7 linked regions of the Homo sapiens genome follow. The protein of the gene in region 1 purifies or fractionates together with the protein of each later gene. This does not show direct contact. Each region holds a gene or a part of one and is shown on either strand. Other genes may lie near its edges.

Evidence for each region.
Region 2: the proteins of MAGEA10 (region 1) and PES1 purify together in Homo sapiens (affinity purification with mass spectrometry; 4 studies listed by BioGRID and IntAct, with this or other methods). This does not show direct contact.
Region 3: the proteins of MAGEA10 (region 1) and SLF1 purify together in Homo sapiens (affinity purification with mass spectrometry; 4 studies listed by BioGRID and IntAct, with this or other methods). This does not show direct contact.
Region 4: the proteins of MAGEA10 (region 1) and ZZZ3 purify together in Homo sapiens (co-immunoprecipitation; 3 studies listed by BioGRID and IntAct, with this or other methods). This does not show direct contact.
Region 5: the proteins of MAGEA10 (region 1) and NRIP1 purify together in Homo sapiens (affinity purification with mass spectrometry; 4 studies listed by BioGRID and IntAct, with this or other methods). This does not show direct contact.
Region 6: the proteins of MAGEA10 (region 1) and KAT2B purify together in Homo sapiens (affinity purification with mass spectrometry; 4 studies listed by BioGRID and IntAct, with this or other methods). This does not show direct contact.
Region 7: the proteins of MAGEA10 (region 1) and POU2F1 purify together in Homo sapiens (affinity purification with mass spectrometry; 3 studies listed by BioGRID and IntAct, with this or other methods). This does not show direct contact.

What each region holds. Positions count from the first base shown.
Region 1 is NC_000023.11:152,135,778-152,140,061, forward strand, and holds the start of MAGEA10 (melanoma-associated antigen 10), read right to left. Parts: upstream 2,801-4,284; 5' UTR 2,698-2,800; intron 1,193-2,697; 5' UTR 1,094-1,192; intron 304-1,093; exon of another isoform or gene 213-303; intron 58-212; 5' UTR 1-57. UniProt on the Homo sapiens protein: Not known, though may play a role in embryonal development and tumor transformation or aspects of tumor progression.
Region 2 is NC_000022.11:30,581,911-30,585,410, forward strand, and holds part of PES1 (pescadillo homolog), read right to left. Parts: intron 2,808-3,500; coding exon 2,636-2,807; intron 2,545-2,635; coding exon 2,455-2,544; intron 1-2,454. UniProt on the Homo sapiens protein: Component of the PeBoW complex, which is required for maturation of 28S and 5.8S ribosomal RNAs and formation of the 60S ribosome.
Region 3 is NC_000005.10:94,691,669-94,694,894, reverse strand, and holds part of SLF1 (SMC5-SMC6 complex localization factor protein 1), read right to left. Parts: intron 2,822-3,226; coding exon 2,639-2,821; intron 2,339-2,638; coding exon of another isoform or gene 2,331-2,338; exon of another isoform or gene 74-2,330; intron 65-73; coding exon 1-64. UniProt on the Homo sapiens protein: Plays a role in the DNA damage response (DDR) pathway by regulating postreplication repair of UV-damaged DNA and genomic stability maintenance.
Region 4 is NC_000001.11:77,676,159-77,679,658, forward strand, and holds part of ZZZ3 (ZZ-type zinc finger-containing protein 3), read right to left. Parts: intron 1-3,500.
Region 5 is NC_000021.9:14,967,501-14,971,000, forward strand, and holds part of NRIP1 (nuclear receptor-interacting protein 1), read right to left. Parts: intron 1,027-3,500; 5' UTR 693-1,026; coding exon 1-692. UniProt on the Homo sapiens protein: Modulates transcriptional activation by steroid receptors such as NR3C1, NR3C2 and ESR1. Also modulates transcriptional repression by nuclear hormone receptors.
Region 6 is NC_000003.12:20,123,946-20,127,445, reverse strand, and holds part of KAT2B (histone acetyltransferase KAT2B), read right to left. Parts: intron 1,542-3,500; coding exon 1,333-1,541; intron 24-1,332; coding exon 1-23. UniProt on the Homo sapiens protein: Functions as a histone acetyltransferase (HAT) to promote transcriptional activation. Has significant histone acetyltransferase activity with core histones (H3 and H4), and also with nucleosome core particles.
Region 7 is NC_000001.11:167,227,386-167,230,885, forward strand, and holds part of POU2F1 (POU domain, class 2, transcription factor 1), read left to right. Parts: intron 1-3,500. UniProt on the Homo sapiens protein: Transcription factor that binds to the octamer motif (5'-ATTTGCAT-3') and activates the promoters of the genes for some small nuclear RNAs (snRNA) and of genes such as those for histone H2B and immunoglobulins.

The sequences.
Region 1 (4,284 bases):
GCTGCTCTGTGGTGTCCCACAGCTCTTGACCTCTTGCTCTCCCTGTCCCCTGAGAACCTGAAGAAGGAAGTGAGAGATGGCTCCTCAGGATGCAGCCGGCAGAGGCCAAGGCTCCAGGACTGACAGTAGGGTAGGTGGAGCTGATGCAGTGGGGTCCACTTTGTCCTGGAGCAGGTGGGGCCCTTGGTACACATTCAGGGCATGCACCTCACCTTGACTCCTGGCACTGTCTGGGCCCTTTCTGCTCTGTGACCTGAAAACACTGCCTTAGACCAAGGCCTCACCTCACAGTCCCTGGAGCTCCTGAAAGAGGAATTGAGGGGCCCTCAGGGTTCAGGCTGCAAGCACAGCCCCAGCCTCCCAGTGTTGTCAGGAGGGTGGGCTGGACTCTGTGAGTTCCCCACTACCCTGGGGTGGGGAGCCTCTGTGCTCACGTGGGGCTCTCACCTTTCTCCTGGAAAAGCCTAGACCCTGCTCCTTTGCTGGTCTAAGAAACTCTCAGATCAAAAGCTTACATCCCTGATACGAAATAGAAGACATGAGGGGACCCACATCTGGCCACAACTGCAGAGGTCCTCCCAGAAAAGACAGCAAGAGGTGGCCATATTCAGCTGGGTCCATGTGTACTGGGGTGAGGAGCCTGCTTGGTCCTCTTCTTGATGCCTGATACGACCTGGGACCCTCCCTTTGTTGATCTGAGGCCACTTCCTTAAACCAAGGTCCTACCTCCAGGAGACATGGAAAGAGGAAGTGAGGGGAGTCCATCTACCCCCAGTTCCCCATGAATTCCCGTGGCTGACAGAAGGGGTAGGGTGGGGCTGAGTCCTGTGCGTTTGGAGAATGGTGTCCCCTCAGTCCTCACCTTGACTCCTGGCAGGGTCTGGGACCCTCCCTCTGCTGACCCGAGTGCAGCTCCCTTAGACCAACACCTCTCCCTCCCAGAGACCAGTGATCCTTGTATAAGACAGGGAGACTCAGCGGACAGCCCTGACTGGGTTCTCCAGAGTGACAGTAGGGTCATGGCAGATTTCTGTGGGGACCCCATCTGTGTTATGGGCTGGGGGTACCCTCAGATTTCCCTCAGGTTCCTTACCTGGACTCTTGTCAGATCCTGCGACCCACTGTGTCTGTAGAAAAGAGGGGTTCCCTGTGTTGACTTGAGTCACCCTCTGAGAGCAAGGTTCTCACCTCCCTGAGATTCCAAAACAAAAGTAAGAAGGAGCCACATCCTGTCATCCCTGTGGGGTGTCCAGGGCTGATATCTCCCCTTTACACCAAAACTCCATTTCCCTGAGGGTTCCTCATCTTCCTGCCTGTGGTAAAATTGAGCTTGCCACTTAGTGCCAATCCTGATCAGGTCCCCTCAGAGCTAAGAACAGGGGACAGCCAGACTCTGTGACATCCCTTCTTTCTGGGCTGCAGGTACCTCCAGTCCTCACTAAGGGGGCACCCCTTGGGTCCTGCAGATTCTGGGACTCCTCCCTCTGTTGACCAAGTGTGGAACCCTGTAATAACTTCTTAGCAACCCTCAGACCAAGGTCCTCACCTCCCTGAGACCCGGCAGGCAGAAGTGGGGAGGGGCACCACACGATCACACCTGCATGGGATTCCCAAAGCTGACAGAAGGAGCAGACATTTGGCGGGGGGGGGGGGGGGGGTGGTGGGCAGGGGAGGGGGACAAGACGGGGACTTCCTTTATTTGGGTGTCCTCCAGGTATTCAGATTTACTCCCGACAGGGCCCAGCCCTTTCCCTCCTGCTGAATCGTGTATGGGTCTTGCACGCCAAAGCCACCATCTCCCTGGGATCCCCGGTGAGAAAGTGGGGGCCACTTCTCTTCCTCACCGTCCTGCCTGGGGTTCCAGAGCTGATAAGAGGGACAGATTTCCTAGTTCTGAGATGCGGGGATCTGCTGAGTCCTCCCTCAGGGCTCTGGGACTCCTCCCTCTGCTGACCTGAGGCTCCACTCCTCAGACCATAGCCCTCTCCTCATTGACACCCCAAAGGCACAGCAAAGACACATCACATGGGCCACCGTGCCTGAAACCACCCAGGGCTGAGGTCCCCACTGATCTGGACTCCAAGGTCCCTTGAGTCCTTTCTCTTCTTCCTCCCCTTGACTCTTGGCTGGGTTGTTCTCCTCTACCACGCCCCGCCGCAGACCTGAGTCACCGTCCCTTGGATTCCTCAGGCCGAGTGAAGAGACATCTCGGTCTGAGACAGAGGTGGGGTGGGCACCCTGTCCTGGGATCCCTTCATGCCTCCCTCATTTCCCAGCAGGGCCCGGGCCTTCCCTCTGCTCCCCTGAAGCCGCATTCTTGGTACCAATATCCCCTTCCCTACGTCAGCCTCAGATGCCGACGTCAGAATTTGCGTTCCTGGTCGCCATGACCAGGGCTTCCCAGGGCCGACATCAGGGGCAGAGCCCTCCCTGAGCGTCCCGACATTGATGCTGGCAGAACCTAGGCGCGGCTCCCGCCGAACCAGCCGGGCCCTGGTCACACCAAGCTCTGACTCCCAGAGTCCCCTGCGGCTTAAGCGGCGGGAGAGAGTGGGGGCGGGGGTGGGGGGGGGGTGACAGCCCAGCCTGAGAAGTCTGCCCTCAGGTGGTCCAGAGCTGGCAGCAGAGGCAGCGCTGTATTATTTAGGGCTTTCTATCTGGGTTGGGGGCGTCCTCAGTCCTCCCTCAGCCTCTCACCTTGCCTCCTCACAGAGCCTGGGCCCGCTCTCTTCAGCCGATCTCAAGCCTGTCCCTCAGAACGAGAACCTCGCTTCTCTCTGATCCCCGAGGCGTAAGTTAGTGGCGTCACATCCGGTCCCCGGGGCTTCCCTGGGTTGACAGCAGGGGCGGAGTGGATTCTGCCGGAACTGGGGTGGGAGTTGGGGTGGGAGTGAGGGTGGGAGTCCGGGTGGGGTGGGGTACGGGTGAGGATGGGGTTGGGGCAGGGGTGGTGGTGAAGATGAGTGTGGGGAGGGGCGTGGAGGTGGGAACTGGGATGGGGATCTTGGGGCTGTGGGTCGTGGTGGGGGTGGGGGTGGGGTCTTTCAGTCATCCCTCAGTGTCTCGACCTTGATGCCTGGAAAAGCCTGGACCCCTGTTTTGTGCTGAGGATGTCTTCTCCCCTTAAACCAGGTCTCTTGACTCGGAGTCTTCCAAGGTGGCAGTGAGGGGAGGGTTGTGGTAGGGGTGACAACATTGCCAGGGTCTTCCAGGGCTGACAAGAGGGGCTCAGCTGGATTCTGTGGCCCCTTTGTGAGGGGTGGGTGGACCCTCGGTCCTCACTCAGGAGGGTCTTCCTCCTGGCTTTTGTCTCTTTGATGAAGTGATGGGTGGGAGATGCTCAGTTTCCGTCACCTCTGATCATTTGCCCAGCTGCATCCCTTGCAGAGCATGGGTGCGGTTCCCAGGCCAGATGGTCCCTGGGGAGCTGCAACACCCGTGATTGTAATGACCTATGGGAGAAGACGCACACCTTCCCAACGGGGCTCTTCCCAAGCCACAAGTAGACTTGGCAAACTTTTTGTCCTAAAGGGTATATTTTCTACAAGAAAGAGGCTGAGCATCGGGGTGTGGAGAGGTCCTGCTGTTTTGAGTTTAGCTGATATTTTATAGTCCAATGCAGTGATGTCTGGTTTTCTAACCCTCATTCCTAGTAAAAATATGTGTTTTAAATGTCTGCCAAGTGTATATTGAATACATATATAACATTTCATGAAAGAATACCTACCTTACGCTGTGTGGTTCACTGCTTATTCTATTTCTGGTCTATTCTTTATATTCTATTATAATAATTTTTCTCTTTTTTTCTGAGCAAGAAAATTTAATATAAAGAATTATTAACTTGTAGCAGAGGATCAACTAAGACCAGTCGTCACTGTGGTGGTTTTAGGTGGTTAGCAGCATAGACTCCGGAGTCATACTCCCTCAATCAACCCCGTCTTTCCTGCTGTCCTGATATCACTCCAGAGCTACTGGGCTACTGGCATCGTGGTATGAAGTGTTGCCTCAGATTGTGCAATAAAGCAGGGCCAGAAATTCAAATATTTCTTCCTACTCGTCCTCTTATTTGCCGTCTATGCAGGCTGCGGACCTCCGCAAATGCACTGTTGTCCTCCACTCCCCCTACTCCAAACACAAGGTCCAATTCGAAATTCTGCAGTCTGCTTAGGGTTCTATCATGTTTTGCTGTGTAGAATTTGTTGAGTGTTGATAATGTTTTTTCCCTTCTCCCCTCCAGGATTGATTCTGGAGTGTAAGTCAGCAATATGAACTTGATGCTCATTT
Region 2 (3,500 bases), on another chromosome or scaffold:
CCCCATAAAAGAGTGAGAAAAGGGACCCTGGTCCCTGCTGCTCCGAAGACTGGCTGGCCCTCCCCTCCCTGCTCCGGCTCTCCCACTTCCTTCAGGTCTAGCTCAGACTCGGACAGACCACTTTCCGACCTGGCCAGAGCTCCTGCCTTCTACATCACCTAGTCTACAATCTTTGCTGCATGTCTGCTGCTGGGCTAGCGTGTGAGCACCAGAGGGTGGTGCTCCCAGCGCTGTCTCTAGCCCAGAGGGGCTGGCAAAACCTTGGCTGACTAAGGTGCCTTGGGAAGGCCAGGCCCAGCGGGGGCGGGGGAAGCATGGGGCTCAGGCCGCCCACTGAGTCCCACCTCTGAACCTTGGGATGGACACTCAGAATTGAGTGACTCCCTCCTTGGGCCCAAGCCAGGTCCAGAGGCATGACCCGAGGGGCCAGGGTAGGCTGGCAGCTGGCCTGGCTCAGCCCCCAGGGAGCTCTTGGGAAATGGCCAGCAGACAAAACTACTTTTTGCTCAGGGAAAAGGCACAGAGCTGTCATCCCAGCAGCAGGGGACACAGAAGGCTCATCTTTGCCCTGGAGCAGTTAATAGGGCAAAACAGGGCAAAGAACTGAGGCCCAGACAGAATCACAACTCTTGAGCAGTTCTGCCCCCTAAAACCATGGAGGCCGAGCCAGCCCATTTGGCCCCCAGGACGCGGCAGGATGTTCCGAGCAACGTGAAAATCAGTAGTGATCACCATGGGTGCCGGGTGTGCCCATGACTCTTAGCTGTTCCGCTATTCTGCTGCCAGACAGTGACCTGTGCTGTGAGAGCACATAGGGCCAAGAGAAGCCCTGCCTGTTCCCTCACTCACACCGCCATCCTTCCATGAGAATCTGTGAGGGCCCCTGACAGGCACATCTGGGGACCAACCCCATTTCCCACAGCCCAGCACTGAGCAGGGAGACCCCGCCCCTACAACCAGCCTGAGTTCCACAGCTATGAACCCAACCCTGGCTGCTCACAGGAGGGGCACAACTGGGCTCCGCTACGACCTAGTGCCAGTCCTCCCCATCCGCTGAGAGGAAGCAACGGCAGTGAACTGGCCAAGGAGGAAAGGGGAATGCGTGGCTGGCTCCCTTCCCCCAGGGCCAGCTGTGTGGAGGCCGGCCCACCACAGGGCCCTATTCACCACCAGGGAGGACACACAAAGACCAGTCTGAGCAGCATGGGGGCAGGACATCAGAGAGAAGGAAGGACCAAGAGGAAGGCAGGAAGGAAGGAGGAGGAGAGGAGGGCTGGGGAAGGGAAGAAGGAAGGGCCACCCACACGTGCCCCAGGGGGAGAGGGAACAGGGACTGCTGAGGGCCAAGCCCGCCTCTCACTCGCAAACAGGCCACAGCCTCACCACCAGACAGCCAGTCAGGGTAGGTTCCAGTCCTTGCAACCCCACCCACAAGGGATCATAAGTAACAGCCCAGGGCACCTAGAGTCCCAGCTCCCCCTGGAGCCCCTGATAATCTGGGCAGCAGAGCCACTGTGCTAACTGGACCGGCAGCGGCTGCTCTCCGCTGAAGGCACCAGTTCCCACTCAATGATCAAGCAAGGTGGGCTAAATGCAGGCCACCAGCACAGGGAGGCAGGAGAGCCTGGCCCACCTGCGGGGCACTAGAAGCTCCATGAGAGGGCAAAACCAGGGTTTCTCTCAGTGGATCCCTGCCAACAATTCCCAGGATTTCAAAGAGATAAAGAAAAAGGCTGGGCTCTGTGGCTCACGCCTATAATCCTAGCACTTTGGGAGGCTGAGATTGGAGGACTGCTTGAGCTCAGGAGTTCCAGACCAGTCTGGGTAATATAGTGAGACCCTATCTCTATTTTAAAAGAAAAAGAAAACAATATATGTAGGAAACAGTGCCACATGCTAAGTGCTTCTCCTGTGCTCACCGTTCCCCTTCTCTCCCAGTCCCCGAGTCCTGTGGGGCAGAGAGGCAGGAAGGGGGAAGCAGAGAAGGGAGGCAAGGCCACTTGGCCAAGGTCTGGCAGCTATCGGCAGCAAAGCAGGGACGAGGAGCCCAGTAGGTTCGAGGGCAGGGCTCTGCCACTGTCCCCGTGGTGGCACCACATGGTGCTGGGCATGCAGGCTGGGTATGGCCCTGATAGCTGTTCTCACTGTTTATTCGGCCCTAAAAGGCCAAGCACCAGGCACTGTTAAGGGTGTAGACACTGTTAACTGAGGCACAGAGAGGTGAAAGGAACACGTCCAAGGGCACGCAGCTGGCAGGTGCTGCCATAGGGCTAGCTTAGGCTCCCGCTCTTAATGAGGATGCTGTGTGGCACATTCTGCCGCGCCTCACCCCTCATCAACAGTTGGGAACCCAGCACTTGCTAAACTCCATGGACAGCAAAATCCCCCTTCCTCCACATCCATATCTGTCTAGGAGGCAGCACAAGCCCGTCCCCTCCCGACAGGCACACTCACGTCATGGGAGAAGGCATAGGGAGTGATCCACACGATGGGCTGCCCCAGTACCTCGGCCTGGTAGTAAATGCCTTTGATGGACAGGAAGACCTAGGGGAGAGGAGGAGACATCTGGGTGAAGACCATGGGGTGGCAGGAGAGGGGGCAGGGTGGGATGCCAGCCGGGCAGTCCCAGGCTCACCTTGCGCAGGGCACGGGCAGCGATAATGTAGTGCATGAACTCCACAGTGAGCCGGCGGCACAGCTGAATGGTCTGCACGTGGCACTTGCCAGTCCGCGGGAAGGTGGAAAACAGGAAGCACATGGAGAGGGCATCGTCCAGGTCCCGCAGGGCATCGATGAACGTGGGATACCTGCATGGCCAGTGAGGCAGCACATGGGGCCTGTTCAGCGTGGGTGCCAAGGGGGACCCTGATCTCCTTATCCCACCCCAGATGCCCCGTTCCTCAAGCCAGGCCTCACCACTGCCACCTCCTGACCTGGCAGGAGCAGCTTCCCCACAGCTGACCACAGCCCCTAGGAGGAACCACTTAACCAGGATGCGCCCACTAGGCTCTGAGGACCAGAGAAGTCCCGATGGGGGTCCTCAAGACACCGAATGCTCACCAAAGACCCAGCCTTGACCCACGTGCGGATTTTGTGGTGCACGACGGTAGACGGAGTCAGGGGCTCTATGACTCTCTTTGAAGGTGGAAACTTTAGTGCACAGACACTCTACAGGGAGGTCCAAAATGGAAAATGGGAAACCGAAGCTGCCCTGGTGGAGCAGGGAGCGGGGTGGGGGCTGCTTCCCCTCAGCAGCACTTATGACTGGGCCTGGCCACCGGTCGCCAGCGTAGGTTATGTCTTCCATGCCTCTCATCCCTTGGACATGTCTAGTTGGCAGAACCAATGAGACCCAGGGAATTGGGTCCAGGAAGAGCCAGAGCAGAATGTGTTTCGGGGAATCCTCTGGTAAATGACGAAGCCAACAAGGATGAGCCACCCTGGGCACTGTGTGGCTGCCCTGTTGAGGGACAGAGGCATGGGTCACAGAGAAGACACGG
Region 3 (3,226 bases), on another chromosome or scaffold:
GGTGAAACCACATAATCCAAGGGCAATTCTCCCTTAGCATTCCTCTGTTGTAAAAGCACTGGGCCTGTGAAAAGAAAATGCAAAATGTTGCAAGTAAAACATTTCTATTTTGGCAGCTTAACAGCTCTTTTCTCCTTTTTCCCAAAGCATCCAGTGCTTTCTTTGCAATCATATTTTGTATTAATTCATGTCGACACAATTAACTGACTATATATATAGACGAATAAAGGTACATTAAAAAAATTCTAGTCAATTACCTAATAAGGTTTCCCCAAACGTGCATGCCTCCGTTAAATAAATAATAAATACAACTACAAATAAAAACTTTTATAAAACTTTATCAACTGTCATTTTAAAATAAGAATTTCAGTGTTCCCAGAAGAAATCTTAAAAATGTATTATTCATCTTATAAATTCTATACAAGAGCCTCAGGGGTATCTCAAAATATCACCAAGAGGAAAAAGTAGTGCCCCTTTCATTGCTAATAAACAATTCTAGCAGTGCAAAGACTACAAAACCTTGCACAGATAGAGAACAGTTTTCATATTACCCTTGCTTGTGTTCAATGTTTAGTACAGGTAACTGGTTCACACAAATTACATATTAATTCTTCTAGATCAAACTCAGATCTCATCCATCTATACTAGTTAAACTCATTTAACTACCTACTTAGAAAGTACTAAAGATAGAGTTTATCCACTAAGTACTAAAGGATGATGTGGAGAAGGCAAAACATAACTCAGTATTTGGTTACATAGCAAAGTATAGGAGTACTTTTGCCTTCATCAGTCAAGTCTTATAATTATTTATGCACTTGGCCATAAAAACGTTACAGGGGATATAAAGATTTTAGTACTAGCAGACATAATCACTAGGTCCTACAATTATAACATAGATCATATTGTCAGAAAGAGAGAACTGATTATAACTGCTAAAATTCATAATGATGACTCTGATCAGACATACATAGTAGCATAGATATAAAATGTACTTAATATAAAAGATCAACCATTGATAATATGATTAATGTATAATTTATGGAAAGAAGATAATTCTAAAACAAAATTAGGCTCCTTTTCACTGTGCCAACATCTCAAAAAAATTGTTCCAAGTTACTTCTGTTTAAAAAAAAAAAAAAAGACAAAATTACGGACACAGGATACCAAAAGTAAACAAACGTTTTAGAGAAATAAATAAATTCTTGAAATTATTGCTCTTGAGGCTGAGTGACTCACAATGAATAGATAATGCAGTTACTTCAATATAAGTGTCAAACCACTTGACAGGTCCAAACCCAGAATATGACTAAGGCAGAAACAAGTCTGTACGACTGCCAAAGGACCTTGATAAAAACAAAAACAATTAGATTTCCTCTTCTAGGAGGAGAAACTCATCTCTTTACTATTCTCCACTAAGAGCCCTAGAAAAATTCACATTGGTTGGTATAATGCCATACTCTACTGAAGAGCTGGACCTAATACAATAATGGCTCCTAACAAATATTGGCCTGAATGCCAGACACACGGCTGAGTAGAAAAATAAAACATTAAGGAGGTAGAACTTATGGTTTAGTAAACACAGAATACTAAAAAAAACAAGGTAGAAGAACTGAAAAACATTGACTATGAAATGATATCAGTAAAACAGACACACTAAGGCCTTTAGGGGGCAGGAGAAGACTATATATAACCAAATGTCTTAAACTCCCATGCTATACAGCCTTCCTTAGATGCATATATACTAAAAAGACATCTTAAGAAAATACGCTTTTTGTCTTTATGCACAATCAAATGTTTTAATTACAGGATAAGATAATGTTAAATTTAAATGTAAAATTAATACAAATAAAAACGACAAGTAATTTCTACAAATCTTTGTTTCCATATTCTAAGCTGGTCATCAGTTTTCTTTTTTTCTTTTAAAAGCACCAATCCGTTTTGAACATTTTGTTGTAAAATTTATATTATTCAGTTTAGATATAAGAAGAATGACACTGAAATAATGTGGGGCCTTGCTGAAAGCAAAGATCAAAAATCAGCAGGAAAAACGCAGATGAATATTCAGCTCAAGTTACCTCCTTCACAAAACCCCTGCATAACAGTTATCACCATTTGAAAATCCTCCTGCTTTAACTTAATTGGCTGCAAAATGTGAATGACGAAAAATATTCTAGGATATCATTTTTTTACAGTCTGTACAGAAATGACTCATTAAAAATAAGATTGAGTTTGTAGTTACATACAGGAAATGAAAAAATCCAGGTAATCACAATTGAACATTTATATCCATTTATCAATAAGCTTTCAGAAATGACTGGCTCACAAAGACATTACACACCTGAAGGAAAAAGATAAATATTTAAAACCAGCAAACTCAATTCAAAAACAGACTCTCATACACGAACCTAAATAGGCTTAATAATATATACATAAACAAATATACATTATGAAAAGGATTTTATCTCTAATAATAAAAGGTGCTTACGTTTTAGGAGACTTTTTATCCTTACTTTTTCATTAATATGAAATAAAGGCATCTTTCCTTACAGATTTTAAACATAAAATGCTATCTACCTCTGCAGGATTCATCAAAAAACTGGATAATTTATCAAAACCCATTTAGCATAAACACACTCACCCCCATGCTGTAGTAGCAGCTTGCCAATTTCTACATGTCCGTTTGACAGTGCATCATGCAAAGGAGTCACCCCGTCCACTTGAGTGAGCAGATCTACCTCTGGACAACGTTGCAAAATTTCCTGGACACACACTGTGTTGCCATAGTTACAGGCTTCATGCAAAGGCGTCCAGCCAGCATTGTCTAAATTAGAAATCAAGGCAAGTTTTAAAACAGCAGAAGTAGGACTTTTGGTAGAAAAGTACTGATGTTCTACTTTTCTCATCAGTGTGACTTTCTAGGTGCTTCATATACAAAAAGAATGCTGTGATAAAAATGTCTAGGGTGTAATCATATTTCTACCTTAAAAAATTAAAATAAAAACAATTTTAAAATATTAATGTTGGGTATTATCAAAATATGGACACCAAAAAATGTTTTTATACCATTAGTTATAAATCAATATATGAGAAATTTCTTGGCTTTGCTAAGAAATTTTTCTTATACTTTTAAGATACCTTAGGTAAATTTACTTAAATAATTTTTCTTAATGTGATATAAAACTGTTTAATATCACAAATATTAAGACATTGGACTAGACCACAAAGA
Region 4 (3,500 bases), on another chromosome or scaffold:
ACTGTACTTGTTGGTTGGGGGTTTTTTGACAAGGGTCTCACTGTGTCACCCAGGCTGGAGTGTAGGGGCGCAATCTGGGCTCATTGTAGCCTCAATCTTTTGGGGTCAAGTGATCCTTCCACCTCATCCTCCACAGTAGCTGAAAGTACAGGCGCACGCCACCACACCAGGCTAATTTTGTGTATTTTTTGTAGAGACGAGGTCACACTATGTTGCCCAGACTGGTGTCCAAATCCTGGGCTGAAGCGATCCTTCCACCTCAGCTTCCCAAAGTGTTGGGATTACAGGCATGAGCCACTGTGGCCAGCATAGTACTTTTAAGTAGTTTCACATTTTATCTCTGTTCAAAAAGGGGGAAATTTTCATTTAATGCAACCAAATTATGTGGTATGGAAAAATCTTATTTCAAATTCTGGCTGACAAGAAAAGGAATTATAAAACATTGTTTTGTTAAAAAATAAACTTTATTATCCTCAACTTACAGTAATCTTAAAAATAAATAAGGAAACAAACACCACAATAAGAAAGCCAAGGCAAAAGATATTAAACATATCACAGAATCATCTAAAAACAATATGAATGTTCTTAAGGCTTGGGGTAAAAATAAACAATTTAAAATAAAAATGATTAAAATGTAAAAATGAAGCATAACAAAAAAATGAGAAAAATTAAAAAATTAAATAAAGCATTATTTAACAGAGTTGAGAAAATTACCAATTTGGAGGAAAACATTTAGATTCTCATTTCACACCAATGCCAGATGAGGTAAAAACTTAAATTTATTTAAATCTAACTTAGAAAAACTAAACAAACAGAATTAAACCAATATTGTTTATTACAGTTCTGAAAAGGGAGGAATTTCATAAAATCAGCAGAACAAAATTATATCAAGATGTTTGGGCCAGGCACCGTGGCTCACCCCTGTAATCCAGCACTTTGGGAGGCCGAGGTAAGTGGATCACCTCAGGTCAGGAGTTCCAGACCAGCCTGACTAACATGGTGAAACCCCATCTCTACAAAAATACAAAAATTAGCCGGGCGTGGTGGTGTGCATCTGTAGTCCCAGCTACTCAGGAGGCTGAGGCAGGAGAATTGCTTGAACCCGGGGGGTAGAGGCTGCAGTGAGCCGAGATGGTGCCACTGCACTCCAGCCTGTGCAATAGAGCAAGATTCTGTCTCAAAACAAACAAACAAAAAGATGTTTGACTGCAATAATGTTAAAATCTATTTATCTTCAAAGTTCACAAGATAAATACATCTATAAACATGCTTCACCTCAGTAATTAAATAAATAAAGCACAATATGTCATACACCCCCATTAAACCTTTATAAAAAATGTTAAATGTTGATGAGTATAGGGTAACAACCACTCGAAAGAGAATACAAATTTATCCCTTTTGATTAATATTGTTCAGTATGTTTTAAGAGCCTTCAAAATGTACCTAAAAAATCAATTCTGGCAATATACAAGAGAGAGATAATACTATATACAAGAAACATGTATAAATATGTTCTTCACATAGGGGAATAACATATGTTCACTGCACAGAACATTTTACAATCATTTATAATGATAGTTATTAAGATGCATTGTGAGAATGGGAAAGTGGTACCTAACAGTAGGTTAAAAAGCAGGACATGAAATTAAATGTTTTTACCCACAAATACATAAAAAATATACATTAAAATAATGGAAGAAATATATCAAAATGCTAATAATTGTTATATTAATTCCCAAAATCTAATTCCTCAAACCAGCTTTCAAAATCATTAAAATACATACACACCCCTTATACACAAGTCAAAGACTATCTACTTTACCACTAATGGAAGCATAAGGTTTAAATTAACATAGTAAATGAGACAGAGGAGGCCAGCAATGCAATGAAAAAAACTCACTACAAAAACCTGGCACCTTAGGACACTTGGGCTAATAGACTCAATACCAGGATTCAAAACTATACAACTGAATCATATGCATAGGTCATTTACTAATTCTAATTATCTGCTTTACTATCTTCTCCATTAGCAAATGTGCTAATCTTTAGGCAATTGGTTGTTCATTACTGATATCAAATATTAAATGTAATAGAGCCTTGTTTGGGAGTAATTCCTTGAAATATTAAGTAGAAAGATAAATAGGTTAAAATAATAAAACAAAGGAAGTTCCATACACAGTAGCACCATTTTTATTTGGTGTCATCTGATAAGGAGAGATCTACACGTAAATTTTCCAGAAAATTGAAACTTAACATTTAATTAACAGAGTTTTGAAAATGGTTACTTTTATAGCAATCTCAAAAGACACCAATTTCTTACTTCCTTAAACATAGTACACAGAATAAAAGTTCATTATTAAAGTTATCATTGTGATGCATCAACTTACTAGGCTGCTCTACGATACTGTCATTCCTTCAGAAGTTAATGATTATAGGAGTGTATGTATTTATGTAATGGCCTTAAAACACTATTCTACTATAGTTCCACCTACTTTTTAATAGTTCTTCCTTTTCCCCTGTAGATGACATTTCAGCTGCCAATGTCCCTAACTCCAATGGCCAACACTGAAGATTTTTATCTGTGGACTAATTCCAATTAGTAGTTTCCTAATAAAGGCTAATGGCTTATTATACTTGGTTGCAGTCATTTTGAAGGCTTAGAGATTTTTTTATGTCCAGGATTGCTGTTATGTTTCAAATGGCTGAGGTCATTAGCAATAAATGTCAGCTGAATTACTGCCTCTAACTTACAAATATACTGAAGTTCCAAAACAACAGTAATAATAATATCTGAATAGTTTGATTAATCACAAAGTGATATTCTCCTCAAGGCAAGTTAGTCAACTCACTCCTCTCTAATAAGACAAAAATTACCTACATAAATGAGAAAAATCAGCTGAAAAGAAAAACAGAAAGGTGAGAACGAAAGGGTCAAACAAAATAATCAAGACTTTGGACTTTGGGAAATATTTACTGAGAGTGGTTTTCAGAGTACAATTATAGTGGTTATCAGAGCATTAACTACAGAAATTTGCACCAGAGTATATACCAAATCTCTAGTAAATACTACTATAAAAATGAAACTCTTCTAGCAACTATTTCTTGTAGGTGACTCCAAACTGAATTTTCATATGAAATTTAGGTGTTTTTATTTTATTTTTGACACAGGGTCTCACTCACTCTGTTGCCCAGGCTGGAGTGCAATGGTGCAATCACAGCTCACTGCAGTCTCAACCTTCTGGGTTCAAGCAATCCTCCCTTCTCAGCCTCCCAAGTAGCTGGTACTACAGGCGTGCACTACCAGGCTAATTTTTTTTCTTTTTTGGTAGAAACGTGGTCTGACTATGTTGTTGCTGGTCTCAAGCAATCCTCCCACCTCGGCCTCCCAAAGTGCTTGTATTACAGGCGTGAGCCACCAGGCCCAGCTTAAGGTAACTTAAAGTTACAGGTCTGTGGAAATTGGCATGGTGTCAGACCTTAAGGAAAAAACTCAAGTGAGA
Region 5 (3,500 bases), on another chromosome or scaffold:
CTCATGACCTTTGTTCCACTTTGTCCAACATGATGAGGAGACTCTGCAAACCTATCTCTGATGAGGTTTTTAGTCACATCAGGAAGATTCGTATCAGGCTTTTGATCTTTAACTTTACTTTTCTTCAACAAAGTTTTTAAGTGACTTGATGCAACACCATAGCACCTTAAATCCTTCTCCACTTTTAAAGAATCATGACTGAGGGCATATCCTTGCTCCTTGAGGCTCTGCCTGATTTGTTGTGACAGAGCAACAGTCTGCAGCCTAGAGCTGAATGACTGAAGCAAAGAGGCCAGTAATGTGCTATCCTGTTTGCCTTTAGGCACACTGTCAACCATGCCAGCTAGCAAAGCTTCCTTCTTTACGTTTAAATTCATGATAGAATCAGACAGCCTCTTCCGCTTTGCTGCATTCCAGTCCTCAGAAGACTGCAACAGTCTGGCTTTTTTGAGGTGCAGCATGCCAGACCCCTGATATGTATGTGTATTGAGAACTGGACCATTACTTTGACAGGTGGGAAATGCACTGCCAGAAATGTTAAAGTTCTGATCCTCTTCATTATGCCCAGCAGACTTTTTGTCAACGGCAGTACCTGATCCCCCTGCTGCCTGATGCATTAGTAATCCTTCTAGGTAAGTTAAAACAATAGAATCCTGGTGCACATCAGAGCCAAGCTCTTCTCCATGAGTCATGTTCAATAGAAGTGTTCACAAGGGCTTGGTTTCTATTCACTTTAAAGAATGGTTTTCTGTGGTGAGTGCGATGTAACTTTAATAAAGGAGTATCAGTTTATCACCTTCCATCGCAATCAGAGAGAGACGTACTGTTACATTCTGTCCAAGATTTCTTCTGGCAATGACAAGATAAATGCAGTCTGACCACAGTGCTGATCAACTTCTACGCAAGGAGGAGGAGAAGAATTCCTTAACACATAGGTCTGTAGCAGTAAGCAGATAGAATCCTTAGTGAATATATTCCTTTTCCTTCTTCATCTTTTGTTCCCCATTAAATGCAAATATCAGTGTTCTAAAAAAAATAAAAATAAGAATAGTTAAGGAGGCAGAACTAGAATCACGTTATGATACCTACAAGCAAAATAATATAGCATCTGTAAATGTATATATATATTACATATAAATAATAGACATATAAATGGATTATAGTCACTTTAGTAATTTGTTTTATTGCCGTTCCTATTCAATTGAAAATGTCTACTGGAAATCCTGTGGGTTAATGCATACTGTTAAAATGATCAAATCATTAGAGAAGAGAACATACTTTAATGTTACATAGCCATCTTCCAAAGCCGCCAAGTCTCTGAATTTTCATAAGCACCTTTCTGCAAAGTAATGTGAATGTTCAGTCTCCTTTATAGCTTTATAGCTCTACAGGGGAACTAGAACTTGCTTCCTTACATTACTGGGCACTTAGGAAGAAACAAAAGTAGATGTGCAGAAAAAGGAAAAGAGATGCAGACTCTGATGAGTCTGATGTGGGGTTGAGGCCAACAGAACAGATTCATTTCTGACATCATCCCCCAAACACCAGACATTCCATAAGTAATTTTTAGAATTTCCGTTTTCAAAAAAATGAAACCACTAACAAGTTGAAGATTATTTTGTGAGTCTGTTCAAAGTGTGACCATCTTAATCATATTCATAAACATTAAAATACAGTCATAAACTTACCTACCCATACTTTTTACCATGACTTATTAAAGACAGAGAGGAGTGATTCTTTAGATGCTTGTTCAGGGCTATCAAGGGTTTAATGTAGTTCGTTAGTAAATCCTTACTCATGTGCTCTATGGAGAAGTCTTAATGTCAGGTCCATTCCTTACAGATACAGAAGACAGGGAGGGCATAAACATATATAAAAAGTACAATGGAGAATGCCAAAGACATTTTAGTCACAGTTTGAAAAATATTCCAATGATATTTATTATCTAAGAAGAGACCAAAAAATTTCCTATCACTAACACATACACAACAGAAGAAGCAAGAACTCATTGCATTTCTGAAAACTTGATAGGTAAGTGTCAAAATTGACCTAAGGAAGGGGGGCCATGACACCTTTGGAAGAGAAGCTGGAATAAATTCCATGCAGTTTGTTTTTCAAGATGCCAGAACATTTTGTTTAAGTTATCAGACCTGAAGCTATCAACAAATACCTTGGTCCCTATGGAATTTAAAAGATAAATTTTAATTGAAAGACTACCCTGTAGCTTTTTAAGTACAATGCTTAACTCTAAGTCAAACTTTAGGAAATAATTATCTGATTGTATCAAATTGTTGAATTTATTGATTAAAAGGATAAGAAATGATAGCCAAAGAAAAAGATACAGAAAGGAGGCAGCAACAATTAATTTCAACTGTGTAAGGAGTAGGATGAGAAGAGACTTTCTTGAGATTCCAATGCCACCATTTTAAGAAGCTTTGCCATAATGTACTTAAGATGGATATTTTAAGAGGTTAATAATGATATAGAAATGAAATGGTTATCATGACTGCCACCAAATATCCATTCTCCCATTTTCATTTACTAATAAAACCCTGACTTGTTTTTCAGGGAGTAGGGAGGTATCCCAGCTAAACACTACTTTTCTCCCCCCTCTGGTTATATTTTACAATTGATGGCATGTTGCTTAATTGGAGGCTTATTTTTCTTTCTTAGTGGTATAAAACATACGGGTACATTTTACAACTGATAACATCTTGGAGTTGAGGAAACCCAGTTTTCTAATTCTCTCAAAAAACTTAATATGGCCAGGTACGGTGGCTCACACCTGTAATCCCAGCAATTTAGGAGGCCGAGGTGGGTGGATCGCCTGAGGTCAGGAGTTTGAGACCAACCTGACCAAAATGGTGAAACCCCATCTCTAGTAAAAATACAAAAATTAGCCGGGTATGGTGGCATGCGCCTGTAGTCCCAGCTACTCAGGAGGCTGAGGCAGAAGAATTGCTTGAACCTGGTAGGCAGAGGTTGCAGTGAGCCGAGATCGTGCCACTGCACTCCAGCCTGGGTGACAGAATGACACTCTATCTCAAAACAAACAAAACAAAAATAACAACTGCTAATATACAATTAATTCTCAACTAGTTAAGACATTTAACAACCATTTAATGGGATATGCAAGTCCACTGTATTTCTCTCCACACCACTGCCAACCTTTTTGCTCTTGGGTAGACTCAAGAAAGTCAAAATCATACCAGTCATTTGAAAACTGGTTTGTAAACAGCCATAAAACATACTTTATTTAAGAATAAGAATGAAATAAGGAGCATCTTTGAGTTCATATTACTCCTGTTATTGCTTTCTACTTTTTACTGTGCATGATATAATTTGCAAAGTATTATTCATTGCTTTAAAAAGACTGAATTTACACATTTCTGAATTTACAAAGCAGATTTGGAAGTTGATTTAAAAAGGAATTATCACAGTTTCCTTGTAAAGGAGCTCTAACACTGTATTTTACCATTTATTTACCTCTCTACCATTTA
Region 6 (3,500 bases), on another chromosome or scaffold:
TTAAAGCAAGGGTTTTGTGTTTCCTGAAAGAATAAGATTATGTCAAAGTTTTACCTATCCTAGTTATATAAATATACTTTTTGGGGTGTTCCTTATTAACCAACTAAGAAAGAGGGACATGTCCTAAGTTTCTATAGAAACTTCCTTCATGTAGCCCCTATCTCGCTAGACCATCCTTTTATCTGAACTTTTTAGAGCTAGGTCGCCTGCACAAGATGTCATCAGCACTCCCATCAGAACAAAATACCAGTCACCTAAGAAGTGCCTGAGGTTTACAAATAGAGAACAGAGTATGTGCAGAGGTGCTCTGGAACTGGCACAGCCAGTGCCAAGGAGGGGTCAGGGAGAGCAGGAAGTCATGGACAAACATGGTATGTGTCTCTGAAGAGTTAAGTCTTACTCCAAAATATTACAGAAACATTATGAAAAAGAATTTAAAATTTACATATACAATTTGCAAAATTCCGCATTATGGAATCCTTCCCTCTGTCTAAAGCATCACTCTGAATTGTCACAGGCATGGATCACAGTCCCCATAGGCTACTGGGCTATGTATGTTAAAATAAATTCAATTAGAGAAGTTTAGTTCTTTAGGGTTTCGTGGGTTTTTTTTTTTTTTTTTTTGAAATGGAGTTTCGCTCTGTTGCCCAGGCTGGAGTGCAATGGCACGGTCTCGGCTCACCACAACCTCCGCCTCCTGGGTTCAAGCAATTCTCCTGCCTCAGCCTCCCAAGTAGCCGTGATTACAGGCATGTGTCACCAGGCCTGGCTAATTTTGTATTTTTAGTAGAGACGGGGTTTCTCCATGTTGGTCAGGCTGGTCACAAACTCTCAACCTCAGGTGATCCTCCCACCTCAGCCTCCCAAAATGCTGGGATTACAGGCATGAGCCACCATGCCCGGCCTAGTTTTTTGTTTTTTTTTTTTAAGCAATGGATTTTCAAAGTTAACCTGTCTTATATCCCAATAATTGCCCACAGACCTGGGCAATAATGGCACCTAGTTAAGATACCAAAACCAATATTTTGATTATGAAGAAAGCAGAACATCTTAGTGTTACATTCTCTCACTGCTATAAAGAATGAAGCACAGGAGAGTCATCAGCAATGTAAAATATAAAGTTTCATCATCATTAACAAGAAAATTTGTAAATTGTTGAAAATTACTCTTAGCACTTTCAGACATGAAAATCAGCTTGGTGAAGCTCTGTATCCACAGCAAGACAGGTGCAGTAGTATTCGGTGGATGACTATGGCTGACTTTCACTATCTAAGCAGTTCCTCTTTCATTTAAAAAGGAAATAAGGAAGAAGGAACAGAAAGTACCACTTACGGGTCAAAGACGAGCCGTGTGATGTATTCTTTTGGCATTCGGGGCAGCTGGTGGGAGAAAACGTTCTGTAGGCCAACCAGCCACATCAGGATCTTCTTGTTTGGTTTCTGGTTGAGGGAATTGCCAACCACGTGAAATTCAATTACACCCCTGCGCTCTTCCAACCTTGCCGCCTCATCCCTGGCCGAGTGTGCTGACAGAAAATTGGTCTGAGATGCAAGAGACAGGAAAAAATTACACAGAGCTATTCTCTCAAGACAGTGGGGATGGGACACATCCAAGCTTCTCATCTTTGTTCTAATAAGATACACATTTGTGGATTTTCAGAGTCCTAAATACACATGTGTGCACACATACACACAGAGACACATACACATACAAGTTATGAAGACAAGACAGAAAAGGCAGGTAAAGCATTTTGAGAAATTGGAGTATTATATGTGTACACGGATGATATTCAGTGTAGATTAGGGGCCAGCAAAGTTTTCTGTGAAGGGCCAGATAGAAAATATTTTAGACGTTGTGAGCCATAAGGTGTTTGTCACAACTACTCCTTCTTCTGCTATAATGCAAAAGCATCCACAGACAATATGTTAAAGAATGGGTGCAGTACTGTTCCAATAAAACTTTATTTAAAAATACAGTAAGCAGACAAAATGTGGCCTGTGGGTTATAGTTTGCCAACCTCTGGCTTCAAGGAATCCTCTCCAGCTGAGCTTTAAGGACCCTTGAGATGACAGATTCAAATTCTCATTACAGGCCCAATAGTAGCACTCATGTATATATTCTTTTTTTTTTTTTTTTTTTCTGAGACGGAGTCTCGCTCTTTCGCCCAGGCCAGACTGCAGTGGCGCTATCTCAGCTCACTGCAAGCTCCGCCTCCCGGGTTCATGCCATTCTCCTGCCTCAGCCTCTGGAGCCTGCCACGGCGCCCAGCTAATTTTTTGTATTTTTTAGTAGAGACGGGGTTTCACCGTGTTAGCCAAGATGGTCTCGATCTCCTGACCTCGTGATCTGCCCGCCTCGGCCTCCCAAAGTGCTGGGATTACAGGCTGAGCCACCGCGCCCGGCCTCATGTATATATTCTTAACACCTCTTTTTAAAGAACAGTTTTCTTTCCAGAGAATATCTGTTGACCTACACTCAACCATAGCTGGAAGCACAACCATGTGCCAGCACTTATGCTCCCCATCTTATTTAATCTGCCTAGTGGTTTGCAAGTAGATGCTCCACAAACAGCTCTTCAAGGAAGGAAGGCCCTAACTGGTGACACTTCATCTCATTAGTCCAGAACTGGCTATCCAGGTAACCAGGTGCCATGCTAGTCAACTTCAAGCTACCAACATATGGAACAACCAGCTCACAAAACTCCTGAAAATTTAACAATTTTCTTGTGCATTCCAGTACAAGCCAGCTCTAGTACACTACTAAATATTAATATATCCAAAATATTTTCAAACATGTGACTGCATCCTGATGTAGTTTGAATGTGTGACCCCTCCAAATCTCATGCTGAAATGCAATCTCCAATGTTGGAGGTGGGGCCTAGTGGGAAGTGTTGGATCATCAGGGCAGACCCCTCATGAATGGCCTAGCACCATCCCCTTGTTGATGAATGAGTTATTGCTCAGTTAGTTCATATGAGATTTGGTGGTTTAAAGGGGTCTGGCTCCTCCTCCTCACTCTCTTGTTCCCTCTCTCACCATGTGATGTGCCTGCTCCCACTTCACCCTGCACCATGAGTATAAGTTCCCTGAGGCCTCCCCAGAAGCTGAGCAGATGCTGATGCCATTCTTGTACAGTCTGTGGAACTGTGAGCCAATTAAAGCTCTTTTTTAAAAAAATAAATTACCCAGTCTCAGGTATTTCTTTGTAGCAATGCAATAGACTAGTACAAATCCCCATTTTATAGCTGAAAAAAACCTAAACTCAGCTAATCTGTAATGTTACTAAATCCCTAAAAAACTATAGTCTTAAGCCCTCACAGACTGGACATCTAGGAGGAAATGGAAAGATCAATTTTAGGAAGAGATTTTTCTATTACAACATTCTGGTTCTCTGAAGTATCCTCAATGTCATAAAATAAATATTTAAAGAAACATGACAAATTGAAAATTAACACTGTAATATAATCTCCAAGCCATTTCTTCATTTCCTGGAAGCTGTCA
Region 7 (3,500 bases), on another chromosome or scaffold:
AGATATAAACAGGAATGGCTGGAAAATGAACAATATGCTGTGTGTTAAACGACTCATTTGTGCTTAAACATATGATTACCTTAATGGAGTTGCACTGATACCTTAAAGGGAATATATTTTTATATGGAAAAGTGACTTAGGTGTTTTCTTGTTTTAGTACACTTATTTTAGTGGTCTGCTTAATGAAAAATACAGCCTTTTTTGGCTGATTCATACTGCAGCAAGCAATATTATAATTAATGTTTTAAAGTAGTTACCATCCTAGTCTATAAAAGGTATCTGCTATGTACCTGGTCCTATGCCTGTAGTCTTTGGGAATAACAAGGAAATATGACTGCTGCGGAGGAGTTGGTATGTTTACTTAAGCAGGAAAAATTGAAAAACAGTGTATATAATTACATATTAAAATATGTAACAGATAATGAAGATTGGAGAATAGATCAGAGTGTGTCCAAGTTTGAAAGAGCCAGAGCATCCTAGAATATATTATAGCTGGAAGGTAATTTAGATATAATCTTTGCTAAAGGTTTTGCTTCACAGATGAGGAAATATTTTCACAATGGTTTAGTGACTTGCTCACAGTCACTTAACTATTCAGTAACAGATAAGAACACAAGACTTCTAACTTTCTCCCACCTCCCAGTCTCTCCTCCTGCCCCATTGCTGTCAGTCAGAGAAGGCTTTATGTAGAAGGCGAGACTTTTAAACCGAGCTTTAAAGGGCAAAAAGAATTTAGAGGAATGGGAATACAGAGAAGGCCATTGAAGGGGAGATTGTGTTCAACATTGTGATGTATAGGTAAAGAATGAGGAAGCATTTGTTCTATCTGCAGGAAAGCTGTTGGAGGATTTTGAAATAGGGACTGATGTGATAAAAATGGTGTGTTAGGAGTAATGTGGTGTGCAGGATGGTTTGAAATAGGAAGGGAGAGATTAGATCCATAGAAACCAGTGTATAGAGGTATTTGGTTTATTAACTAATTACTGTAGGTGCTACTAGAGATACAAACATAATTTAAAAATTACTTGACCTCAAGAGACTTCCAGTCTAATTTATGAAATAGATAAGTCGTGATAAAGGTGTTGAGGATATTGTCCAATTACATTACATGGAATAAGGACGTTTGGGAGAAATTCTTACCTGGCCTTTACAGTAGAAACTATTTGTTTTTAGTCTTATGGACACTGAATTGTCTAATTGACTTAGTTTCCTTTTCAAATCAAACTACAGTTTGATTTGGTCAAATTTAGGTCAGATTATTAACCTGAGAAGCACATGCATAGGCAATTACGTTTGCATTTCTTAGCCTGATTAGTAGATCAATTTTTTGTCCATGCATTTGTTTTGTATTTCTTGTATTGCTTCCATCTTTAAACTCTTTTTATCTTGTTTTATGTGGGCCACCTTACATCCTTTCTGGAGCAAGGCAGGTATAAATAATATTACCATAACCATGGCACAGTGATAATGTCTGTATTTTTATAGTACTTTAAAATTTATAGCCACATTCTCATTTTCATTACCTCAGTTAGTCCTTTCAGGCAAGCGTTACTATACCCATTTTATAGTCGAGTAAAATAAAACTTAGATTAAGTGACTTTCTCAAGGTCCTGTGTTTTTATAAGCATTAAGTGTGGGTAATAGCAAGACTTCCAGCTTAGTTGTTATTTAGGCTGTGTATTAAGGCACTTTGGGGCTCTATTGTGGAGAGCTCTGAATCCTTTGTGTTGGTGTAAGAGTTTGGATTTTATTTGCTAGGCAGTAGGAAGTCACTGAATTTTTTTTTTTTAATTTTTTTTTGTTATGGACAGTGCCATGATCAGAGCCCTTAAAGTTTAGCAGCTAATTAGATGCAAAGAGATTATCAAGGTTTTGAGTTTAGGTTATCCAGAAAAGAGCATTACCATAAGCAGATGTAGGGATGTTGGGAAAAGGAGCCATTTGGGGAGTAAGTCAGTGAATTCACTTTGACATGTCATTTGAGACATGTTTGGGTGGGTCTTATTGGGTTGTAGATTCCTTGTGAAAATTGAAAATTTTTTAGTGAATTAAATGTTTGATAAACATTAATACTAGGGTTGAAATTTATGCTCATGCCACTGTGCGTGTGGACTGAGTATTGAATCTGAACGTTGTAAATTCTAGATATCTCATTTTGGCTTTGGCACTGTCTTCTAAGGTTATTTCCTTCAACAATACGATGGTGATAATACCAGTGTTAGAGGGATGCTGTGGGGAGTATCAAATTGATAGCAGAAGCATTTTTAAAGTAACTCTGTAATAGTTTTTCTTACATGAGCACAGGAGTAAAATCAGGAATTTTATTACTTGTGCTGCTGTAGAGAAGCAGAAGCTTTAGCAGCCGATGGATTCTGTGGGGCACCTGACTGTAGGTTGTTCATTTTTTGGTGCAGCCAGCATCTTAGGAGGAATGGACACTCCTAATACTCTTCTGAAAACTTTATACAGTGGAGGTGTTGCATTGTAGCAAATACAACTTACCTTGATTTCAGGGCATTCTGTTATCTAGCCCCTACCCTTGCCTATGCATTATTATCTTTACTACTTCCTTAAATAGCATGACTCAACAATTCCATCAAGGAAGTTCCCTTATTGTCCATTTCTACCACAAATACAGCATATTATCAGATTTTAATTTTTAAAGAAATTTCCCTAAAATTTGAAGATCTATCTTGGGAGGATGGCTATAATTTATCCTGAGACTTACCTGAGCCTTTCTCCCATTACCATCCTTGCAACACCAATCCCAGTTTGAGACACATGACCTGAATGTGTACCCAGTGTTTTGGTCAAGCCAGTGTGTTTGGGACGTTGTGTGAGAACCTTTACTCACACTTTTTCCTCCATTGGAAGGCCATGGTGTATGGTATGGTAGAGTGAAAAAAGGTACTGGGGGGTTCAGAGACCTGGCTTCTCTGTCACTAATTAGCTTAGTAACTTTAGGACAAGTTACTTCACCATGGATTTTTTTTTTAATTGCATTTGTAAAATAAGGGATTTCAAACTTTTAAAAGCCTTTGGTGTTCTTTTTTAAAGGCAAAAGTGGAGCTGTTCTGATTAAAATTGGATATTGGAGCAAGAAAAGCATTTTCCTCCTCCTTTCCACAGTAGCTTTTGAGGCACTTTCACAGGGTCCTTAGGACTTCTGCTGGTCATGACTTGAAAACTTTTGTCCTTATTTATCTTAAGGGACCTGTCTGTCCATTTCTTTATCTCCACAAATAGCCATCTGTCAAATCTGAGCTCCTGTCATACTTTCTCTGAAATTAGCACTTAATTTGTGTTCAGTTACCCAATTCAGCACTTCATTATACACAGTCCTATTTTCTTCTCTAATTGATTATGTAAGTAAATCTTGTCCTAAGAGCCTTGAGTGCAGGAACATACTGGTAGGGACAGAGTAGGCCTAGACATTTAACAAATAATGAATGCTTGGTTGATGGACTTAGTGGTTCTCAATCTTTGTCACCATGGGGTGA